Homo sapiens: one gene and its partner. The protein of the gene in region 1 purifies or fractionates together with the protein of each later gene. This does not show direct contact. Each region holds a gene or a part of one and is shown on either strand. Other genes may lie near its edges. The genes, in order: ENPEP and FRMD5.

Evidence for each region.
Region 2: the proteins of ENPEP (region 1) and FRMD5 purify together in Homo sapiens (affinity purification with mass spectrometry; 2 studies listed by BioGRID and IntAct, with this or other methods). This does not show direct contact.

What each region holds. Positions count from the first base shown.
Region 1 is NC_000004.12:110,468,153-110,481,051, forward strand, and holds the start of ENPEP (glutamyl aminopeptidase), read left to right. Parts: upstream 1-8,002; 5' UTR 8,003-8,262; coding exon 8,263-8,906; intron 8,907-12,899. UniProt on the Homo sapiens protein: Regulates central hypertension through its calcium-modulated preference to cleave N-terminal acidic residues from peptides such as angiotensin II.
Region 2 is NC_000015.10:43,916,938-43,929,160, reverse strand, and holds part of FRMD5 (FERM domain-containing protein 5), read left to right. Parts: intron 1-4,851; coding exon 4,852-4,956; intron 4,957-9,351; coding exon 9,352-9,394; intron 9,395-9,623; coding exon 9,624-9,702; intron 9,703-9,880; exon of another isoform or gene 9,881-10,312; intron 10,313-11,331; exon of another isoform or gene 11,332-11,436; intron 11,437-12,223. UniProt on the Homo sapiens protein: May be involved in regulation of cell migration. May regulate cell-matrix interactions via its interaction with ITGB5 and modifying ITGB5 cytoplasmic tail interactions such as with FERMT2 and TLN1.

The DNA of each region.
Region 1 (12,899 bases):
TGCCCAGGCTGGAGTGCAGTGGTGTAATCACAGCTCACTGCAACCTCGACCTCCCAGGCTCAAGTGACTCTCCTGCCTCAGCCTCCCGAGTACCTGGGACTACAGGCATGCACCATCACACCCAGCTAATTTTTGTATTTTCTGTAGAGATAGAATCTAATTTTGTTGCCCAGGCTGATCTCAAACTCCAGGGCTCAAGTGATCTACTTGCCTCAGCCTCCGAAAGAGCTGGGATTACAGGCGTGAGCCACCACATCCGGCCCCAGACTTCTTATGATGAGAGATAATTAGATGTCTTTATAGATTAAGCCACAATTAGCTAAGTTTTCTGTTATTTGGAACTGGAAGAATTCCTGACTACTCCAAAATAAATTCCTTCTCAAAAGGTATTACTATCTAAAGTTTTTGTATGCTCCAACCCATGGTGGGCTGTAGCTGATGATTTCACACATGGAGACATATCTGAATCCAGAGTAAAGAGATTTAAACAGTGAAGCTAAGACCCTTACAATACATGCACATAAATATCTTAAGCCCAGGTACAAATGATAAACCAAGAATGAAAGAGTCACATGAAAACCCTTTAAAAGCTGAATGGAAAGCGAGATATCAAAGGAAATTATCTAAAATACAGAAGTCAAACAGTCCACCAGACTAGCCATCATTGAGGACAATAGAAATAAATGAGGCAAAGCATTCAGAAGATGGAAGGAAATTACTGTACCCCCAAGAAATAGTGTTATTTTGCCCTGGATTTGTATATCATTGACCTTAAAAAAGCATCTGTAATGAAAGCTTCAAAATCAGAGGTGGGTATAAGATTTCCCCAGATATAAATTTAATGAAAGATTCAAATAAAATCAGTGGGAGTCATATTGCTTATACAAAATGACATACAGCCTGTTAACTGAACAAATAATTTATTAACACTGTAAACAAATATTATGCCATGAAGACAACTGGAAAATAAACACACAAAAATCTTTGAAACCTTGAGCAAAATACCTCCCAAAGAACAAAAACCAAGTTGTCAAGTATATCTTTAGAAAATCGGAAGTGAATGAAAAAAGAGAGTGTGTTCTTATTCAAAAAGCTAATATTCTATCTCATTGTGATCCTCTTTCTACTTGAAAAACAACTATTCTGTCCTGAGGCTATGTTTTCATTTGTGTTTTTATTTAGTGCTTTTCCAACATTTGAAGTGCCTGGGACATTATGGTTTTCAATAAATGTTTGTTGAGTGAATATGTAAAATCTGCTGTACTCTTTTTCTGTGGCTGCTGTAACAAATTACTACAGACTTGGCTTAAAATAACAGAAATGTATTCTTTCACATTTTTGGAGGCCAGAAGTCCAAAATGAATATCACTAGGCCAAAATCAAGGACAGCAGGGTCATCTTGATCCAGAAGCTGTAGGGGAGAATCTGTTGCTTCCCTCTTCTGGTGACTGCCAGCATTCCTTGGCTTGTGGCTGCATCACTCCAATCTTAAAGACCAGCACCTTCAATAGCACCTTCAAATCTCTCTCTGCTCTGTCTTTACATCACCTCTGTCTGTGTGTAAAATCTCTCTGCCTCCCTTTTATAAGGACACATGAGATCATATATTAGGACCTATCCTAATAGTACAGGATAATCTTCCAACTCAAGATCTTAAACTTAATCATATCTGCAAAGACACTTTAAAAAAAACTATATTTTGTAACATGCACAGGTTCCAGGGATTATCAAGTGGATATCTTTTGGAGGGGGGCATGTTTTTTTTTTAGCTTAAGGCAAAAGCATTCTAAAAAAGTCATAAACTGAAAACAGAAGAGATGCTAAATAAAGAGAACAGCAACAGGAGAAATAATGTTTCTATTATCCATATGGATGACTTTGATCATCTTAATGCAGTTTAAGTCTTTACTTCCAAGGAAAACAAAAATTGAAGACAACTTTATTTGGTTAAAGTTAATGTGGCAATAAAGAAATTTTCAAACCAAACAGCTAGCACTAATAAATAAAAATTGTAAAATTATAGGCCTTTTCTTTGAAATAAATAATTAATATTACCTAAGGTAAAGAAAGGGTGTATTAGAATTTTTGTGGAGAACATAATCCAAAATAATCATTGCTAGTATAATTCACTTGGACTCTTTATGGAGTAAAAGAATATTGGATGAAATAGTTTCCCTATACCAACGTTATTTTTGCAGACTTCTGCAGATAGAAGAGAAGAAAATATTGCCAAGAATTCTGATACCATAAAGGCTGAAAGGAAATGTTGAGTAAATTAAACATTTCAGGAAGTTTTAAAACTCTTCAGAATACAGAACTATTATTTAGTGCACTGAAAAAATATATATAATTTCAAAATTCTTAGAACAACAGAAATCTAGACTATATTATCACTATTATTTTTCTCCTGCTGTTTTTATATCCAACCACTTTCTCCCAATGCATTATTGCACATTAGGGAACTCAATACAAATGCAGTTAAAAATTATAGGAATCATAAATTTTTTAGTTTTATTTTGTTTGCTTTTCCAAATATTTTCAAAATCTCTACCTGCTGAGAACAAGGCAGGGCTTTACATATATGCCTTTAAGAATATTAAGAATATTCACTATTATTTCTTTTAAGGCTTACATTTTGAAGTTTATCTTAGCATTCCTTACCTAATAAATATTTGTTGGAAAGTAAATATTTATTTAGTCAACAAATATTTGTTGAGTTATTGAATGAATGAATAAATGAATAAATAAATAGTGGCTAAGAAACACTTTTCTGGCAGCAGGGGGTTGGGGGGCAGGGGAAGAAAGTGAAGTGAACAGATTCTCTCTAGAGTGATCCAAATGGCTAACAGGAGCATAATTCTTGCTTGTGAAATGACATCTCCTGGCATTCAGGGATTAGTGGTGAGAGACATTATGAGCATCAGTCTGGGTATCCCAGAAAACTGCAGAGAATTCTCAAATCAGCCTGGAAACAACAAGGAATAGAGAAGATAGAAACTTATTGTTTCACTGATTTTTATTTTTATTTTTTATTTTTTTGAGACAGAGTCTTGCTCTGTTGCCCAGGCTGGAGTGCAGTGACGTGATCTCAGCTCACTGCAACCTCACCCTCTGGGTTCAAGCGATTCTCCTGCCTCAGCCTCCTAAGTAGCTGGAATTACAGGTGCCCACCACCACGCCCAGCTAATGTTTGTACTTTTAATTGAGACAGGGTTTGACCATGTTGGCCAGGCTGGTCTTGAACTCCTGGCCTCAAATGATCCACCTGCCATGGCCTCCCAAAGTGCTGGGATTACAGGCGTGAGCCACCTCACCTGGCCTGATTTTTATTTTTTATTAAATTATGTTTGGTGTGTTTTGGAGGTTTATTTTCCTTCTCATCTATTTTGAAAGTCCTCCTTTTTCCTCTCCCTTTCCTTTGCCTCTTGTCTCTTTCTTCTTCTCCTTTTCCTCATCTTTCCTCCCTCTCCCTTTATTGTGCCAGTCATTGGACAAATTCATCATTTTCCCACCAATAAAAATTAGATGTGGCATGCTGAACATTTTATGTCTTAAAACTACTCCTGACATCTGCATCAGTTTTCAGCTCTTGGAAAAAGTTAATCTAGTTCACTTAGTCTTAAAACCAACTGAACCTTTTAAAACAGTTGTTGACGCCAAATAAAAGATGACAAATAGGGCACAGGCATTGGAAATACAGGTGAATTTACCAGCATCAGAAAGAACATGGCCAATATGGCTTTAGACCTCACGGTTAGCCAAGTCAGTTGCAATGACTCTCTCCTTTTTCAACTCTCACAGCTCACTAAACCTTTAAAGTTTGGAAATGGCTGAATTGACCAAGGGTGTTTATAGAATTTATGAGTTTAATAATAGTGGCCCTGTGGCAAGATGGAAAGAAACTGGTTCGGGCCCTCCTTGTTCCCTATGTATACAGCCTAATTTGCAGATTCTATTTCCTCCATTGTGAATCTAACTTGCCACTTTTTTTTTTTTTGAGACTGAGTCTCGCTCTGTCGCCCAGGCTGGAGTGCAATGGCATGATCTCGGCTCACTGCAACCTCCGACTCCTGGGTTCAAGCAGGATTCTCCCACCTCAGCCTCCCGAGTAGCTGGGATTACAGGCACCCGCCATCATGCCCTGCTAAGTTTTGTATTTTTGTAGAGTCGGGGTTTCACTGTGTTGGCCAGGCTAGTCTTGAACTCCTGACCTCAGGTGATCAGCCTTGAACCATAGCATTCAGCTCAGATCACTGATTAAAGGGCCAGCCAAATAATCACACAGTAGTGTTAATTGCTGACTACATTTCCTGAGATGCTCCTAGTGCCCAGGTGAGCCAGCAGCACATGTTATGGTATGGCTATGGCTTGTTTGTTCCAACGGAAACGCATGTTGAAATCGGATCCCCAGTGGCAGTGTTGTGAGGTGGGGTCTAATGGGAGGTGTTTAGGTCATGACAACTCTACCCTCATGGGTGGCTTGGTGCCCTTCTGTATTCTACAACAGTAAATGAATTCTTGCTCTGGCAAGACTGAATTAGTTCTTGTGGGAATGAATTAGCTCCCGTGAGACTGCGCTGTCATAGAGCCAGGATGCACCTTGGGTTTTGCAACTTTACACGTGTCTGCTTCCCTTTTGACCTTCCCTAACGTTGTAATGGTGTGAAAGCCCTCGCCAGAAGCCAAGCAGGTGCTGGTGCCATGCTTCTTGTGCTTCCTAGCCTACAGAAATGTGAGCTAAGTAATCCTCTTTTCTCTATAAATTACCCAGCCTCAGGTATATGTTATAGCAACAAAAAACAGACTAAGACAGCACCGTGTATACACAGAAGGCCCAATAGCTCTGTAGGATGTGTAATTCCTGGTACCTAATAGAAAAGCTTTAAATGGAAGCTGTAAGTGAAAAAGAGAGGTGCATACTTGGCCTTTGATGTTACAGTGAGTCTCTTGCATCAGTCTACCGCCTATGGGAAGGAATTTGCCAAGAATTTCCTCACCTACTCAAGATCAGATGTGATTTCCAGGTCTTCACCCCAGGGAATGTCTTTCTAGTCTTTTCTGGAATTCGAACAGAGTTTCTCTCAACATTCCTGGCACAGTATGTCTGTTAACCCCTCCCATTCTGGATTATTGTTTTTCCTTCCTCTCCTTGTTCATTTATTTGTTCATTTGTTATTCACTAAGCAATCAATAAACATTTATTGAGTATTGAATAGGGAACAGATATCTATTGAATGTTAAATAAGGAACAGGAGCAGATACTGGAATTTTAGTACTCAAAGTAGATCACGATAATGTATGTATCAAAAGGGATGGAGATTGTCATATAGAACCTACAGTAAACTGTTGTTCTTTCACTCCACTGGCTTGGACCTGATAAGTGGAAATTGACCAGCAGTAGTCGTTTGAAATTATTTATATCCAATGTAGATTCATTCAACGTAAGATTACCCAATATGGTCTATTTAATCTAGGAGGGTGCCTGTGATGGTGCACATGCTGGCCCTTCTACCTCTGCTCATCTGGCTGTATTAGGTCACCCTAATATGCTGATCCTCACAAGATGTGGTGCCCTTCATTGGATGCAGTCAGCTCACACAGGTTGGTACTAATAAGATACTGTGGCTAGAACTGGGCTGTGGACTCAAAACCTACACACACACACACCCCATATGTGGACTTAGGGTATTTTATTTCTTCTGGCAAAAAAAAATGCATTTAAATAGTATATTCATTATGGTAGAATTTCAGGCAGAGTAGTAGAGCTTTTTCATAGCAGGTGGCCATTCTTAATCTTCCTTAAGTGTACCCAACCCAAAGGTCTATTATCTTCTCTGTACATAAGACCTGGTGATAAGATTGTTGTCTTTGTAAATAAGGGCAAGTTTAAGAGATTTCATATATGTTTGCCACAAGGTCAAGTTTAAGAGATTTCAAATGTTTGCCACATCTGAGATTTTAAAAAATACTTCCAGTTTAACATAATTTTATGTACATTCTTCCAAATACTTTTTGCTTTTCCTTTCACTATGTTTAGGTAAATTTGAGCCACATTTTTGCCTTTCATTCCTAAGAAACATATCAAAATATTTGACCCATCAAACATTTATTGAAATGTCAGATGATCTTTTCAATAAAAAGAGGGTTTCAAGGGCTAAAATTCAGGAAGTTAATGTGCCAAACTTAAACATACTGTGATCTCAAGAAGTTTAGGGTTGCTTCAGAATGTAAAATTAATCAATACAAGATGGGCCTACAATTTAGAAAAACATATCCCTTTTTCCTTTAATTCTTTTTCTGTTACTACTATTTTGTGAGAAAAACAGCAGAAATGTTACAGAGTAAAATGGACCCGTTTGCTTTTAAAGTTTTGTTTTTTGTTTGTTTGTTTAGTTTGTAATTTAGAACCGTTTGAAACAACGTTTCTCAGAGTGTGCTCTGTGGAACAGAGGGCCCTCAAAAGGTACCTCACCAGAAAAAGCTGTCTTGTCAACTAAATGGGGAAAGTACTCCGTCGTGTTTCCTCTCTGAGAGGCTCACAATGTGTGTCACCATCTGGAGGCTCTGCAAGAATGGAGAGTAGTAAAAGAAGATTTTTCACTTTAACCCAGCATTGTTTGCTTGGCAAGTAGATCTGTTAATATCCATGGATTGTATCTGGGGAAATACCAAGTTTTTCATAGTTACTTAACCCTTGAATATTTATCCTCCTCAGAGCATGGAAGCAAGCAGTAGAATGCGATCGTTGATATATGGACTTTAATTTTTTTAATTTTATTTATTTATTTATTTATTTTGAGATGGAGTCTTGCTCTGTCACACAGGCTGGAGTACAATGGCACGGTCTCTGCTCACTGCAACCTCCGCCTCCCAGCTTCAAGCAATTCTCCTGCCTCAGCCTCCTGAGTAGCTGGGATTACAGATGTGTTCCACCACGCCTGGCTAATTTTTGTATCTTTAGGAGAGACAGGGTTTCACCACGTTGGCCAGGCTGGTCTCAAACTCCCGACCGCAGGTGATCCACCTGCCTCAGCCTCCCAAAGTGTTGAGATTACAGGCGTGAGCCACCACACCTGGCCAGATATATGGACTTTAGACTCAGACAACGTGGGTTCAAACCCCAGTTCTGCTATTTGCCAGGTGTGTGACCTTGAGCAATAGCTTAACCTCTCTAAATGTCAGTCCATAGCTAAGCTGCCAGTAAATATGAAGTTCATTGAGATTTTTCTTCCTGAGCTTGTCATTCAGAAACAAAATGATAGATTTGCATGGATGATGGATTTCCCAACAGGTCAATTTTCACATCTGGAATCTACTTTAAACGTGCTCTACCACATCAAAGTCTAAGGAAGTCAATCTCACTTGGAGGCACACTGCAGAGACAAGTAGGCCTTCTTCCTTGTCCCTCTGTCCTTTCAGACTTCTCCCCCTCTTGTTCCCTCTCTCTTCTTAAGCTTTCCAGCTCCACTACTGCTTTGGCTAATTTCTTTGGGTTCCCCCTCTCTCATTCACCCAGCACCAGCTGAACTGATTTAGGTTTACCTGGCTATGCTTTCCAAATCTAATTCGACAAATATTTACTGAGTACCTAGGTGGTCCTTGAATCACCCTGAGCACCCAATTCCAGGATATGACTTCTTCAAAGGACAGAATTGGAATGTTTACATAATATGAGGGAAAAAAAATAAAAGAAAACACTTAGCTTCTTTAGCAAGCTATCTGATAAAATAGCTGAAATTCAAGAAGCCCTTTAGTTAGGAGGGAGAGATTGCGAACACAACAGGAAGAAGCCCCAGGCTGAGTGGCAAAGGTTGAGATTTTCTATCGTAAGCACACCTCACCCAAACGCTTGCTCCCTGAAAGCTGCTGACGGAGCTTTGGCGAGGGCTCATCCTCCCGTTGGCTGATAAGCGAAGCCCTGTTTTATATTTAACTCGCTGCAGTGCAGGAGGGGTAGGGGTGGAGATGCGTCGTTTATAAGGGGAGCTGTGACAATCTTCTTGCCAGCCCTCTTCCTCCCACTCGGCTCCTCTTACGGAGTCCTCATTCCACCCCCCTTGTTTCCGCATTCATCCTGAGTGGCTGGTGGGAACGTGAAAAGGGAGAGGAAAAGGCGCAAGAAGCCAGAGAGAGGGGTGTGGGAAAAGCGAAAACAGGCTGCCAAATCAGGGGATTCCTTCCAATTTAAAAAGGAAGTCTGCTGACGTTAGTTAGTTAAATTTAACATCTTTTTATGTGTAACACTTGACTTTGGAAGCAAAAATGAACTTTGCGGAGAGAGAGGGCTCTAAGAGATACTGCATTCAAACGAAACATGTGGCCATTCTCTGTGCGGTGGTGGTGGGTGTAGGATTAATAGTGGGACTTGCCGTGGGCTTGACCAGATCGTGTGACTCCAGCGGGGACGGCGGGCCGGGCACTGCGCCAGCTCCTTCCCACCTGCCTTCTTCCACGGCCAGCCCCTCAGGTCCTCCTGCCCAGGACCAGGACATCTGCCCGGCCAGTGAGGATGAGAGCGGACAGTGGAAAAACTTTCGACTGCCGGACTTCGTCAACCCAGTCCACTACGACCTGCACGTGAAGCCCCTGTTGGAGGAGGACACCTACACGGGCACCGTGAGCATCTCCATCAACCTGAGCGCTCCCACCCGGTACCTGTGGCTGCACCTCCGGGAGACCAGGATCACCCGGCTCCCGGAGCTGAAGAGGCCCTCTGGGGACCAGGTGCAAGTCCGGAGGTGTTTCGAGTACAAAAAGCAGGAGTACGTGGTGGTCGAGGCGGAGGAAGAGCTTACCCCCAGCAGTGGAGATGGCCTGTATCTCCTGACCATGGAGTTCGCCGGCTGGCTGAACGGCTCCCTCGTGGGATTTTATAGAACCACCTACACGGAGAACGGACAAGTCAAGTAAATATTAATTTTTGCTTTACCTCCCTTAAGCTCACATATCTGCTTTCCATTTCTTTTCCTTTCCTTTTCACTTTCCGCTTTTAATTATTTTGTTGGTCTGATATTGATCGGCTCTTGGTTTCAATTCTGGCTGTCCATCTGGGAAGCCAAAATTGTTGCCCTATTGTATTTCCAAACCCTGTCATAAAACTTGAAAGTAGTGAATGAGCTTCGTAGAGTCAAAAGTCAGTGTAAGTCTTTTATTCCATCAGGAGAAATCATAATATACTGCACCCTATCTTGAAGATTTCCATAAATTATCTCAGGTTTGAGAACTGCCTTTGGTAAATTTCACTAGTGATATTCCCAGGCTATGTAGCAATATATATACAGCAATATATATGAACTTTTAAAGTGGTATTACACTAAATTTACGTGAAACATCAGTAAATTTCAGTTATTATTTTGTCCATTTTTTTTTTGTCCAATGTCTCTTTTTTGGAGAAGAGAGACATTGAAAAATCACATGTGATCCACAGAATTGTCTTTGTGTCTTCATCTGGAAAGGAAGACAGGACTGTGTTTTTTTCTGTCTCCGATGGCCAGGACCATGCTTTACACATAGGCTTTCAGGAAATATTCATTGAGTCCACACATCAGTGGCATAGGTAAATTTGGAGGCTTGTTGCTCATGATACAATGTGCAAACATAATGCTAAGCCTTTTACAACATAAAAGATATATTAAGTAGTTAAATACATACAAATATTTGTATACAAATATCTATCTAGATAGATAGGTATTTATTCCACTTTCCCACCTATTTGTCTAGCCTTTGTATTGATCAGTGGCTACTACCAGAGCTATGTTAAAGGCATAAACTCTCTCATTGAACTCCAAAAACTTCCTTCACACTGTGGATGTAGCCCTTGCATCAGGGAGGAAGGCTACACTACACCTTGTGTTGTGTCTGGACTGCTTTGACCTTTGCTGGCTTAGATTCTGAAGAGGTAAATGATTAAGAAAGCTTCTTGTCACAGTTTAGAGATGTGAGTCTTGGGCCAGTCCACCCACAAATATCCCTTTTTTTCTGTTGTTTTAAGCATCTTACAGAGCAAGCAAATTTTTTGGTCAAAATTCTTTCTATTGTTTGTCAGACAGACCCACGGACTAAAACAAAACATTTAAATATTCCTATATTCCTGTGTGGTAAACTGATAAATTGAGTAGAAGTGATAGTTTGAAGAAAATATCTGTAGGGGTCATGCTTATATAGATCTTATATCTTAATACTGCTAGCAAAAAAACACTCTTACCATTTACGTATTTTTTCTGTTCATAAGAATTACATCATTGAAAGCATAAAAATTATCAAAAAGGATAATCAAAATAATCTGTAAAATAATTTCACTGCCCAGTGGTAATCCCTGCTAGCATATTAATGTATATTCTAATGTTTTTCTAGGCAATCAAACCTTTAATTGCATTATATCTGTCTATCTATATGCCTTTTTTACTTAATGTCTTGAGAAGTTCCCCTTATTCTTACATGTTTTCAAGAATCTGTTTTTTGTTCTTTATTGAGACAGGGTCTTGCTATGTTGCCCAGGCTGGTCTTGAACTCCTGGACTCAAGCAATCCTCCTGCCACCACTTCCCAAAGTGCTGGGATTATAGGCATGAGCCACTGCACACAGCCAAGAATCTGATTTTAAAGATGTGAAATATTCCATTGTTTGAATACATTGTAATTTTTTAAAACAAATTATATTGTTGAGCATTTGAGTTGTTTCTAGTATTTTATTATTATAAACAAATCATCAAATAACATACTTCTAAATACCTCTTTGTATGTGCATCTGTTTATTTCCTTAGGTTAGGATATAGTCCTAAAAATAGAATTGCTGGGTCAAAGTGTACAAATATACCAAGATATTGTAATAGTTACTTTGTTTATTGATAACATAAATAATACACGTTTATTGAAGGAAACTCAGAAAACAGAGAAAATTATAGGAAAACATAAATTCATCCATAAATTCTTTACCCAAGTATAGCCATTGTTAACATTTAGGCAGAGACTCTTTTAGTACTTTTCTGGACATAGATAGCTGTGGCATAATTATATTATACATAGTAATGTGTAACATGCTTTTCCAATATAGCATCAATGCTTTAAGATGTCATTTGATGTTCTTCCACAAATGATTCGATGGATACATGGTAGGCCATTGTATGACTACAATGTAGTTGATTCACTTTTCCATTAAATATGAGTATTTAAGTTGCTCCTATTTTTTCACCTATAAGGATCTAGAAGAAGGCGCATCCTTATATTGACTATCCTTGTAAATAACTATTTATGGACATTTTCTAATATTTAAGAAAATTCCTAGAAGATGGGCCAAAACTACCTGTGTATAAATGCATGTATGTCTGTGTATATATGTGTACATGCATATACATATATATGCATGAACATGTGTATGCATGTGTGTGTGTCTCCAAACTGACTTCCAAAAAATATGTCCCAAACTCCATTTCCACCAACAATGTATGAAAGCGACTATTCCTCTGAGCCTTACTAACAATACAATGATTTTTTAAAAGTGTTTGCCAATGGTCGAGGGAAGGGCAATATTCTGAAGAATATCCACCTTAAAGAGATTCTAAAAATTCATTGAAGTGAAAGCGAGTCAAGACTTTTTAAATATTATTGCTAAAACTTTAAAACTGCTTCTTAGATCATAAAGACAAGAGAAATTTTATCTGAATAAAACCATCAAAATATTTATAAAATAATAAAATAAAATTTTACACATATTAGGAAGGCCAAAAATTGGAACTATGTAGTCTCCATTAATAAGTTTCTATTATGTACTTTATAAGTCTAAAAAAAGCATTATATACACAAATACTCTCACTCTTTGAGTTATTTTAGTGTACCAGTTAATTTTGCCATAAAATATATACCAGAGAGCTGCCCTTCTGAAGCTCAGTTGACTTAACTTTTGATTGGAGATTACGAAATGATGGCAACATCGGTGAGGAAGGCTGATGCTCAGTTCAGTTCTCACTGAGGATTGGTGTTCCCAAGTTTGTATGTTTCATTGGGAGCAGTTGAAGCTCTCACATTACAAAAGATGCTGCCAGTTCTGTACTGCACACACATGGTTTTGGAACAGATCTGGCGTCAGCTCAATAACCTCATTTAGGCTAAATGGAATACTTTTTGTTATCCTTGTCTGAAATATTTCAAGCATATGAGAAAAGTGCATCATGCTTTTTTTTCTAGCCTGTGAGTAATATTTTGGCAATGCAGCCTCTAGGAGTTCTCATCCACAGGCTCCATATAAGGGCCACCAGAGGGAGTTCACTGGGGGCAGTGCCTTTCTTTCATACTATAGAGTGAGCTTCGTCATATGTGACGTTTGTATCATTTTAAACGTCATCATAGTAATACATTTGAAGTACGGAGTCAAAATTATATTTTCTGACCTTAACGTAAAATGTAACTCCAGGATTGAGTATTAGTAGTTAGGGATATTAATGTGACAACCACAATGCAAACTAAACAGGATTGCACTCAGTAGTAACCAAAATTACTTAATTTCTGCAAATACAATCAGGACTTTGAGCTTCACAAACTTCACAGCTACCCAAGTTGCTTTCTCTCAAGATTGAGACATGGGGAAGAAAGGGGACAAAATTTAGAATTCCACATTGTCTTTCTGGGGACAGAGTTGTAGTGGGGCGTGGAAGGAGAAAGTTTGAGAAACATCCAGTCGCTTTTCCTTTATCGATCTACCTCTTCCTACTCGCTAGTCTATTCTTCAGGGTCTGAGGAAAACCACTTGGAAGGATTGGAACCTTTGGAATGTTTCTCTGACCACACCCTCCTTCTTCCCATTTTCTCACCGTGTTACGTAGGATTTCCAGCTGTTCCCTTCCCTAAAAGAGTTTCCCTCTACTCAAACTCCAAAGTATATATTTTCTTCTCTCCAAGATTTGG
Region 2 (12,223 bases), on another chromosome or scaffold:
GGGAGGAGCAAAAATAGGAATTATCCCACCCTCAGAGCTGCACAGTGATTCCAAGAGGCTCATGAATCATTCTGTGCACCATATAGAGAGAATAAATGGGTTGTACCTATATGCACTAGTATTTTCAAATATGTATAGGCACTGTTGTGGTTCATAAAATATAAATTTATTTTTTAAACGAGTGCTTAATAAGTTATTTTGATCCAATAATGTCTTTGGGAAGAGAATAACCTCAGAAGTAGCTGCAGGGTGAGGATTTGGGTGCTCTGCCTCAGCTCACTTGTCCTGAAGATAAATGTCCTCAGGCTTGGAGCTCTGACTTTGTGACTAAACAGTAATCACCTGTCAGCGCAAGTGCCTGTTTCTCCGGTATAATCAATGGCACAACATTCAACGCACAGTTTAGCCACAGTGCCAGGGCACCTGCAGGCAAAGGGAAGGGAAGACGGCTTTGCCATCTCATCAAAAGAAAAGACTGACTGTCACAGAATATTCCAGAAACCCCTGGACTTAGGACTGGGAGACCATGGAGAGGGTATCCCAGGACGCAGCTGGCATCAGGAAGTGCAAGGGGATCCACAAGCCCAGGAAGTTGTAAAATTCCTAAAATCTTGCCCCTGCCGTTGGCTTGTAGGGAGCCCATCATGATGGTTCAGCTGCATGTGATTTCACCCAGTGCTGCCTCAGGCCACTCCACCAGCCACAGGTGTGAGTGCCTCAAAGGAAGGGCTTTGTCGCAACCCTCTGTGAAAGGTGCCTCTGCGCAGAGCTCTAAGTTGATTCTACCTTTGCATACCTACTGGGGATTTAAATTTCATGGAATTCTATGTCTACCTCTTTCCTCATTCCCCTCACCCCCACCCCAGCCTTGGAGAAAGAGCAAAGGAAGATGCTTCTCTTCATTAGTCTATGCAAGAGCCCTGCAGCTCAAAACAATGCATCTAACACTGGTAACTGGTAAATGGGAACTTGAGGGAACTATGTCTTCACGGCGGGGGAGCAGGGGGATTCACCAGGTGCTGAAAAGTAACCAGAAAAAGGTCTTTTTTATGTAGCTGTAGGGAATGGGTAGTGGGATATATCCTTATTTCCTAACTACTCCAAGAGAAAAGCCATGCTTCCTTTTTCTTCCTGTGAAGTGGAAGAAATCTGAAGTTGGATCTACCAAGTTCAGGGTTCTTACCAGCTAAGAGCCTTACAAGTGCATCTGAACTCGCAGCCCATGAGAATGAGTTGTTTTATGAAAGGCAGGATTCTTATTAAAAGTCTGTATGATTTCCATCACAGAAGCATGTTTTCCCTATAGCTATCTCTGTCCCATTGCTAATCTGGTTGTTGTATGTATGGAAGCAAACTTCTTCAGCCCGTAAAACTCACATCATACTGTAGTAGTGTTTGTGAAAAACATTTTTTCATTAAAAAAAAAAAAGCACCAGCTGATCACAATGTAAAAGCCAGCTTGGTGCAAAGTAAAATTTGTAGAGAAAAGCAATGAAAATATGCTACTGTCTCTCACTGTTCCATTTCAGTTGCTCTGAGAGAGATAATAGTATAGGATATGCTGCATGGGATAGAGTGGAACATGTTTCCTCTGCTCCCAGAGAACCTGAAATACCTCTTTAAGCTCTTCTCACTCTCTTGGCATCAGTGAAGAAGTAGTTAATAGGCCCTGCACAAAGAAAGTTCTGACGGAGTCCTTTGAAAGACCTGGTTTGTGGCCCACCACCCAGAAGTCCCAGTGTGATTCATAACGAGTCTCTGTCCTGAGAGTCACTCTTTCCTGTAGGGGACCAAAGACAGGAGGAATAGGGCCTGCGAGTTCAGGCTTATGTTGTGAGAGGGAGTATGAGGCTAGCAGAAGTGATACCAGTGGGCTGGGGGAGGTCCCCAAACGCCAGTGAGACCTCCACCCCACCTGGTGTCCAGGCTCTTGACACCATTGAGAAGATAAGAATTCTTTCAAGAAATTCAAGGAAGAGTCAGAAAATAGTAAAAGAACAGAGATTTATTGAGATTTATTGCAAAGGGCAAAGTACACATTCAAGAAAAGGGAGCGTAGGCATACTTGAGAGAGTCATTCAGTGGGGTTTGGGGTTTCTGTCTTTATGGGTTTCTTTAACCAAGGGGTGGAATATTCAAGAAAATTCTTGGGAAAAGGTAGAGATTTCTCATAACTGCAGTGGCACCTATTTTTACAGCAAATATGGGTGGTCTTGGAACAGTCCTGGCGCTGGTAGGTGTGTGATCTAGTATGTTAACGAGTTTATAGTGAGGTCCTAGGAGAAACCTAGGTCAAATCCAGCCACACATTGGGTTCAGTGGGTCTTAGCTAGCTTGGTCTATGCCCTGTTTTTCAGGGTCTTATCAGCCCATAGCCTCTAGTCATGTGAAACTGCTGTCTGGAATTTTTATTCTCCTGTGACCACCCTGTATTATTCCTGTCTCAGAAGAGGAGGGGTGTTGCCCACATGTTGCCTCCTTCTGTAGTTGAGCTGTCTACTCACCTATTCTTCCAGCTCCTGCAAGGACAAACTTCTTAACATAACTGCCGCGAGATCAGCATCCTGCCCTAGTTCTCCTTGGATAGTATGTGGTGAGTTAGCAGAAGGGGAAGAGGTGAGGTGTAAACCTTTTGTGAAGGTCTTTAAAATATGCTCATTCTTGGGGCAGGGCCAGGCCCTTCTGTAATTACCCATGGCCTTGGGCCTTGGCACAGGAGAGATCTTTGGATCTTATCTTACAACCTCAATTTCTGAGACAAACGTGATAACCACTACACTACAGAAATTCCTCATACAACCTCAATTTGTATGCAAAATTAGACATAGACCCGCCAGAGATGATCATCTGAACTGAGCTGCAGAGACCACTGGGGACAGGCCAGCGATGGATGCTGTGCAGGCTCCAGATGTTTTGACAGGTTCCTGCAAGTCATTCTCCTCCCACTTCACCCTTGGCATCCAGGCAGGTCTCTGAAGTAGAAGGTTATGGGTTATAAACGGCCTAGCTTTTCACCATTTTGTGAAATCTTTTAGCAAACCTTTTCCCTTCTATTCATTCAGTAATTTATTCAACAAATAATTATTGAGGACCTGCCTGCCATGCATCAGGCCCTGTGCTAAGTTCTGGGGGAAGGATTCTGACCTCATGAAAATTACAGTCTAGAAAGGAAGCAGATAGTAAATAGATAACTAAACAAATCAACAAGATAATTACAGATTGGTATAAGTGCTATGAAGGACATAAATGGCAAAATGAGATGGAAAGTAACTGGGAAGGGCTGTACTATAGGGAAAGGCCTCTCTGAAGAGGGGACATTTGAGCTGAGTCCTCAAAAAATAGGAGTGGCTGCAGAGAGCTGCAGGAAGAACATTCCCGGCAGAGGGAATGCAAAGACAGTGGCAGAAAAGCCTTGGGGAGTTCAGAACGGAAAGGCCATGGCTGAAGTGTAGTGAGGAAAATGATTTTGGGTGAGTGCAGAGAGAAGCCAGGCTGTATAGGGCCTGGGACGCCATGATCAGAGTTTTCATTTTATTCTGAGAGCAACAAGAATTAAGAGAAGTGAGTAACATAAAGATCATTGTATGTTCACTGCCACATTGTTTGTAATAGCAAATTAGAAACAAATGTCATCAATATGGAACTGGGTAAATAATTTTAGATTCATTGCAGTGACATGCAGCAGTTAAAAACTGTGAGGCATATCTATATATATTGCCATAGAAGGATTTGCAGGATACCCTAAGTGGGAGAAAAGAGCTTAAAAATATGTTACAAAATGTATTTTTAAAAGAGGAGATGTATATGTATGTAGGTTTGCCTGTGTATAAAACATCACATAAAGGATATACAAGAGGGCTGGGCATGGTGGCTCACACCTTTAATCCTAGCACTTTGGGAGGCCGAGGCAGGCAGATCACCTAAGGTCAGAAGTTAGAGACCAGCCTGACCAACATGGTGAAACCCCGTGTCTACTAAAAATACAAAAATTAGCTGGACGTGGTGGCACATGCCTGTAATCCCAGCTACTTGGGAGGCTGAGACAGGAGAATCGTGTGAACCCAGGTGGTGGAGGTTGCAGTGAGCCAAGACTGCGCTATTGCACTCCAGCCTGGGAGACAGAACGAGACTCCATCTCAAAAAAAAAAAAAAAAAAAGGATATACAAGAAGCTGATAACAGTTGCTTCTAGGGAGAGGAACTGGGGCACAGGGTGGCCAGGGTGGAAGGGAGACTTACTGTTCATAGTATATCCTTTTGTTTGTTTAAATATCCTACAATGTGCCTGATCACTTATTCAGCAAGAAAGAGATGATGTCTAAATTGTGGACACCCTCATTGCTGTGCGGAGAATGGACTGAAAGGGCAAGAGCAAAGGCAGAAGATCAGTTAGAAGGCTCTGGCAGTGGTCCTGTTGAGGGATGGTGGTGGCTTGACCTATGGTGTTGGTAACAGAGAGGAAGAGAAGTGAATGGATTCAAGATTTACTTTAGAGGCTCAGTCAGCTGGGCCTGGTGTAATTATTGCTGTATTCCACACTGACATTCCCTACACCCACAGTTTAAGAAAGCTCTCTGTGCATTTGAGATGGGAACTGGGCTTACCTGACTCTACCCTGACTTCTCTGACATCTTTGTGGTGGGAAGGGTTCTTGGGCTCCTTCCAGGTGCTAAAAGCCTCTGGATTCCAGACAGTGAGTGATGTATCACAATGTGGAGGACATAGTTATGGACATTCACCCCTTTCATAGACACATGCAACAGTTACAAACAACTTTTAATGGCTATAAAAAAAAAAAAAGTTACACTGAAGAAACCCACTCATTTCTCAATGGAGTTTTCTTTCTTTGCAGAGAGATGCCAAAGGCCAGTACCTGTTTGACCTTCTTTGCCACCATCTGAACCTACTTGAGAAAGACTATTTTGGTATCCGCTTTGTAGACCCAGATAAGCAGCGGGTAAGTCAATATTCAAAGCACAAAAGGAGGACAGGGCTAGTCAATAAGACTGAGGTCTTGAACTGTCATTCATATTCAAAGTCAAGCTTCAGGAATCAGGGACCAACCAGACCCTGCAGTTGGATGTCGTCTCTTCAGATCATAGCATTAGACCTGGAAGGCACCTTGGCTAGAGCTCACCTGGAGAAGCTTGTCATTTTACAGTTGCTGAAATGGCAGGCTAGGGAGCTTAAATGATTTGCACAAAGTTGGAGGCAGAGCAGCTGGGCTGGAGTTGTGGTCTCGGAGCCCAAGTCACAGGGTGAGCCTCTCCTGCCCACTTTCTAGTAAGCAGGCTGAAGCACATTGTACTGGTTAGGAAAGGCCTCACCAAAGGTGCCATACCAACCCAATCTAGGCAGTACAGACAGAGCCAAACCAGCGCGGGCCTTTCAGCACCTTGCAGATCTTGCAGTTCTTGCTCTGCTCTACACAGCATAGGCAGCTCTGCAGACACAGGGCATTCTGATAGCCAAGGGTGCTGATATTCCAGACAGATTCAGGAACAAGTCCATCATCTCAGGCCCCTGCCTATTTCTCCAGCTTCATCTCCCCAACCTGCTGTGGTCCCGCCAGACAGTAATACTTTTGCCCTCCAGATACATCATACCTTCTTTCTTTACAGAGCCTTCACCTATAGAGTTCCCCTGCCTAGAATCTTCTCCTTTTCCTTACCGCTCCACACTCCACACCCTTCTTCCAGCTAACTCCTTTTCACACTTAAGGTCTCAGCTTAGACTTTTACTTCCTCTGGGAAATCTCCCCTAACCCCACTCTGTATTAGGGATCCTCCTATGGGCCCCCATGTGCCCTCTGCTACCCTGTTATAGCACTTATTACATCATTCTGTGATTACCTGTGTTCCCTGCAAAAATGTAAGTTCCATGAGGGCCTGGACTTTGTCTCATTCATCACTATCTCCCATTTAACTAGCACAGGCCTACAATGTAGTTGGTGTTCAATAAATATTTTCTGAAGAAATGAATGCATGAGTGAGTTAATGGCTTATAGTGTTGTATTTCTTACGTCCATTTGCCCAGCCTCCCAGCTTGCAGACACCTGCAGTTTCTATAACTTCCCTTCATCTACCCTTTGCTCTTTGTGGAGATGTACTCTCTGGCATCCCCACCAAAGTAGAGAGGTAATGATGGTGTTTCTTTGTTTGGTCCAAACTTTTATCCTTAAAAAGGAAGGCTGGCTGTGTGCACTGGCTCATGCCTGTAATCCCAGCACTTTGGGAGGCTAAGGCAGGCGGATTGTTTCAGCCCAGGAGTTCATGACCAGCCTGGGCAACATGGCAAAACCCCGTCTCCACTAAAAATACAAAAATTCGCGGAAATGGTGGCATGTGCCTGTAGTCCCAGCTACTTGGGAGGCTGAGACATGAGAATCACTCGAACCCGGGAGGTGGAGGTTGCAGTGAGCCAAGATCACACCACTGCACTCCAGCCTGGGAGACAGAGCAAGACTCTTGTCTTTAAAAAAAAAAAAAAAAAAGGAGGGCCAGTTACTCCAAGATCTCTTCATCCCCTAGAGTGGTGGTATATGAAGAAAAAAAGGCGAATTGTATCCTGTTCATTGGTTTTTTAGTTAGGTCAGAATGTGCTTGAGGAGAGTAAGAGAATATGTGGATGTGGTGAAGGTTAAAATGAGAAGGAACTAGAGAGAGATAAGAACATGGGAAAGAGGAGAAGTAAACATTTATGGAGTTCCTACTGCTTGCCAGGCTCTGCGCTGCACACAAACCTAATTCTTCCAGCTGATGTATACTGCTCACTGAGTCGTGCCAGGCACTAAGCTAAGAGCTTCACGTATGTTATTCCATCTCATCCTTAACAAAATGAGATGAGTATCCCTAATGATAATATCTGTTATCCAGATGAGTAAATAAAGTCTCAGACAAGTTAAGTAACTTGCCCCAGGTCAGTGGCAAAGCCAGCCTCGAGCTCAGACCTGTTTGACTCCAGGGCCAGTGTGGTTTCTGAGATTCCATGCTGAATGTATAACTGATAGCCTCTGAAAGTTGTGTAATTCTGTGCCTTGCGGGAGGGGTTAAGGAGAGCAGAGAGGCTTGAGACAGTAACTGAGGGTTGTAGGGAAATGGGGACCTGTAGAGAGTTGTCCTTAGTCCACTGATTCATGGTAGGGATGGAGGAGCTGAGCTCCCCTGCTCCCTCAGGGTGTAAGGGCCTAAAATAAACCTCTTTCCCTGGGTCTCAAGACAGTCTGAACCCAGCACTTACATCCATCCGATGTCAGTCCTTGCTCTGCAGGAGCCTCCATGCATCTGCAAGCTCTCCTGGTCTCTCCTGGAGGAGCTGCCCTTACTTTCCTTCCCCAGGATGCCTGACTCGGGCCCAGGGCCTCCACCTTCTCTTGGCCTCTGCTTTGTACCCTTTCAAGCCCCTAGAGTCTGAAGATTGTGCCACATTGGCCCATTCACTCAGATAGGGGAGGAAACCCTCCTCTCTGAATCTTCTTTTCCTCTTCTTTTAATCCCTCCTCCCTAAGCCCATGTTGTCTGTTTGCTAGTGAATCTGGGACCGATTTGGTCAGGCATTTGCAAAAAGCCACTCTGGCCATCACCATATTCTTGGGTTCCTCTCAAGATTTCTCTGCCAGACTCCAAATCCCATGGATCAGCTGTGACAGCTCTTCAGTCCCTTCTCACCCCTTGCTACTATCCTCCAGCCTCAGTCCTTTCTTGAGCTCTCACTACAATAAAACTAAAATCTTCTTTCTAGCTATTGTCAAGGGGAATAGGCTTTTGTCATTCAGCTTTATCTGCCCTCTGCTGATAATGCATCTCACAGTCATTAATTTCTACCTTCCTTTGTTTATTTCTTTTAATCTATCAGTCTAATGTCTGGGGGTGTTGCTGTTCTGTGTACTGAATCCCTGGCACTGGCTATGTTCTCCTCACTGTCCACAATTCCAGTGTGCTCTGAACAGATAGGCCTCCTCCGTCTTCACAGGCATACCCTGGAACCCCAGTTGTTTCTGAGCAATTTCATCTCTTGCCTTTGCCTCCCTGTGAAGCTGAGCCGCGGTGGGCCGTGTAATGTGAGAAGGGCCTCTTAACCACATTGAGTGGCTATAATGAGTTGCCAGCCTCGTGGGAACTCAGATCAGCAGAAGCAGGAGAGCAGAATGTCAGTCCAGATTATCCATGTGGAGCTGACAGAAGAACTGGCTCTTAGTGGGTCCATTAACTGCATGACCCATGGCCCAGCCCAGAAGGTGATCACTGGGAATCAAGGGAGGCCAGGATGCTGACTGCAGCGCCCTGGCTGCTCTCCTGCCAGAGGGAGGACTCTGCCAAGACATTACACTAAATTGAAGTAGCCAGAAAAGAAGGAAGTATGGGCCCAGTCCCTTTGCCATTCAGCAGCTACCTATTGAACACTGTGCTAGGCACTGGTGATACAGTGGTAAACGAGACTGACAGTTCTGGGCCTTCATGGAGCTTACATCTGGCAATGTTAAGCTACCTCTGGATAATCAAACTCCAATTAATAGCAGTCCTACCTAATCTTGATTAGCAAAAAGCAACAAACATCAATAATAAAATTTATAAAGGACCCATGTAGAATTAAGGAACACATATAGAATGGTTTCATTGCTTCCCCCAGACGTTAAGTACCATGGGAAAATGTATTCTGCCTCTATGTCCTGCCTCCTTGAAAAATCCAAGGGGAAGAAGGTACTATCCTACACGTTGGTTGTGGTTAGTTATCATTTGAGATTTAGATTTTAAAACATCACTGGATGCCAAGGAATCCTGAGTATGTGTTTTCTAACACAAGGGTTGGCAATTTATGTTACTCAAAGAAAGATGGAATATATACCAGCCATCCCTGACTTAGGAAATTTCCACTTCTCACTACTTTCTAGAGTTGCTACCAAAATCTTCTATTCCCACTCCCCTGCCAAAAAAAGAAGAAAAAAAAAGCTGGTGCATAACAGAAACACACACCACCCATTAAAGTCAGTATTTCCCGACTCAACCCAGGTGGGGCTCTGTCCCCGCCACACATACATGCAGTCGCTTGTGCCTTAATCGCATGCCAAAAACATGGCTCAGAATTTTGGCACCCTGCTTTAGAAGACAGCATTTCCAGGGAAGCCCATAAATGGCATCTGAAGCTGGAACTATTCCCCCCTTCACAGCTGGCTCCATGGGAGCTCATTTCAGAAAATCATATCACTCTTTACTCACCAAACTTATCTTTCATAAGCTTTTGGGCTGCTTTCACCCTAGGCTACAATCTGTCTAGTTTTTTAAGTTGGAGAAAACAAGTTATATTTTACAGCCCTTCTCATTAGGGTTTTCATGTTCTGTGTTCTCTGTTTCAGCATTGGCTGGAATTTACAAAGTCTGTGGTGAAACAATTGAGATGTAAGTATTCTCCATGAAAAGACTCAAGCCACACCCCTGGGGAGGGTGGGACGAAACCTCCCACTTATCTCAAGTTTTGATCTACATATATAATTTCCCACTGTTCTGAGTATAAGTTGGCCCTAAATATATGAGGGTTCTCTTCTGCTGCTTCATGCTAGTGGGCAGAAGAGCCCTGTCCTCTTCTGGGTGAGAGTCTTCCCTGATGAGCACCTCTTTTTCTCTGCAGCCCAGCCTCCATTCACCATGTGCTTCCGTGTGAAGTTTTATCCTGCAGACCCTGCTGCTCTGAAAGAAGAAATAACCAGGTGAGGTGAACATGCTTCCCGCAGCCATTAGGACCTGTTGGAGAGCATAGGAAAGGGGGATGGTGACCTCTTAGAGCCTCTCATTTGGAAGCGCCTAACTCTTAGAGGCAAGGAACTCTTCCTAAATATAATGACTTCTGTATTTCATTTCCACATGCTTTCTTCGCGTACCCCTCAGTGCAGTCGCAACAGAGTGGACTTCTTTCCTTCAAGAAGTGTGAATACTACCTCTTGAACTGGTCACTCTCAAAGGGCTCTGGAGTAACTAATCAGAAGCGTCTTTTCTTTTACCTATGATGTTGCCACTGTGGACATTTTTGGAGAGAGCTATGTTGCTGCTTATTTCGGAGGTTGCAAATAGATTCAAGTGGTCTAATGGATATACTTGGAAAATGCCAAAGGCATAACACTGAAAGATAAGCTGGGAGATACTGAAGATTTAAAATCAAAATGGATAAACTCTGTGGTGCTGTTGGATCAGGTTCGTGATAAACTATTGTGGGGATCATGTTCTGTGGCAGGCCGACAGCTGCGTGGAATGCATCCTGTCTCATCCAGCGCCACTTGAGGATGAAAAGAACCTCTGTGCCCACAGCCATCCTAAAAGAGGGTCAGTGAGTGAGAGCTTCAAAGCTTCCCCAGGATTTTGTGTATCTGAGCGAAATTTACTGTGAAAGTCTCACCTCAGAGATTCAAGAACTCTACAACATGGATCCCTAATTTTTATATTAGAAAGACCTAATTTTGACATAAGCAAAACCTTGATGTTACTTTGTAGAAGGCAGGACCATAGGTAAGGATGTGATGCCAGGGAATCCTAGAGCTGAGGAAGAGATAGGACTGTCAGCTCTAACCCCTTCCCTAAGACCGTGGAGACAGCAAAGGTGGGAATGAGGATATTGCCAGCCATATAGACGGGTTATCCTGTAAGGCTTTGAGATCCACTCCTAGATCCTTAACTGCTTGGGAAAATTCCAAAGACAGAAAAGGAGGAGGGAAGAAGGAGGAAAGAATATGGAATTCTTTTCTTTTTTGAGACAGAGTTTCGCTCTTGTTGCCCAGGCTGGAGTGCAGTGGCGCGATCTCAGCTCACTGCAACCTCCACCTTCTGGTTTCAAGCGATTCTCCTGCCTCAGCCTCCTGACTAACTGGGATTACGGGCGCCTGCCACCACGGCTGGCTAATTTTTGTATTTTTAGTAGAGACGGGGTTTCACCATGTTAACCAGGCTGGTCTCGAACTCCTGAGCTCGTGACCCGCCTGCCTCAGCCTCCCAAAGTGCTGGGATTACAGGCATGAGCCACCGTGCCCGGCCAGAATTATTTTCATTTCCTGATCTAAAGAGCATGCCAGGTGAAAGGAGCAAAAATTTCTCTAAGAGAGGAAATCAGGAAATGGGGAGAGGAGGGGGCCAAGAAGCAGGCATTATCAGTACAAAGGCAACAAGGAAGTGGGACAGGGGAGAAAAGTGGCTTCTTCGGCATGGGCCCTTCACATGGGAGTTGAGGGAGATCCTCTTCAGGAAGGCTTGTTTCCTGCAGATGCATAGGGCAGCGTGTACCCACCTACTTTGAAGCACTGAAGACAGTGAAGAGTGTAGCTAGAACCAAATCTCATGTCTCTTACTAGGCATAGAAGCCCCAGGCTCTGCTCATCTATGTGGAAGTGGAGGTGGCTCTTGCTTTGCTTCAGAAAACCAAATCCATCCAAATCATAGACACCCTAAGGCTTTAGGTAGGTGAGTAAGGGTAGAACCACTATGTTTAAAATTTCAGGCCAGGTGTGGTGGCTCACGCCTGTAATCCCAGAACTTTGGGAGGCTGAGGCGGGCGGATCACCTGAAGTCAGGAGTTCGAGACCAGTCTCGCCAACTTGGTGAAGCCCCATCTCTACTAAAAATACAAAAATTAGCCGGGCCATCACGCCTGTAATCCCAGCTACTCGGGAGGCTGAGGCAGGAGAATCACTTGAACCCGTGAGGTGGAGGTTGCAGTAAGCCAAGATTGCGGCATTACACTCCAGCCTGAGTGACACAGTGAGACTCTGTCTCAAAAAAAAATTTTTTTCAAGAGTTTTGTTAAAATACCACTAGCCTGCCCCACTCATGATCTCCAGAGTGTTTGCCTTAGCTCTGAACTTCTGTCTGTCTCTGCTAAAAGAGGTACTGGTGCCAGGGCAGACCCCAAAGTTGGTACTCCTGTCTACATATCGGAGCAAACCTAACACGTCTTTGTTGTCCACCTCACTGGACCAACAGTGGGGATGAGAGGGAGCAGCCAGTGAGAGCACCACAGACACATGGCTTTCCAATTTGATTAAAGGACTGGAAATGTATGGTTATCTTGGCCCTTAGGAAGAGCTCTTAATAATACAATTTTCCGCCAGGCGTGGTGGCTCACGCCTGTCATCCCAGCACTTTGGGAGGGTGAGGTGGGTGGATCATCTGAGGTCAGGAGTTTGAGACCAGCCTGACCAACATGGTGAAACCCCGTCTCTACTAAAAAGACAAAATATTAGCCGG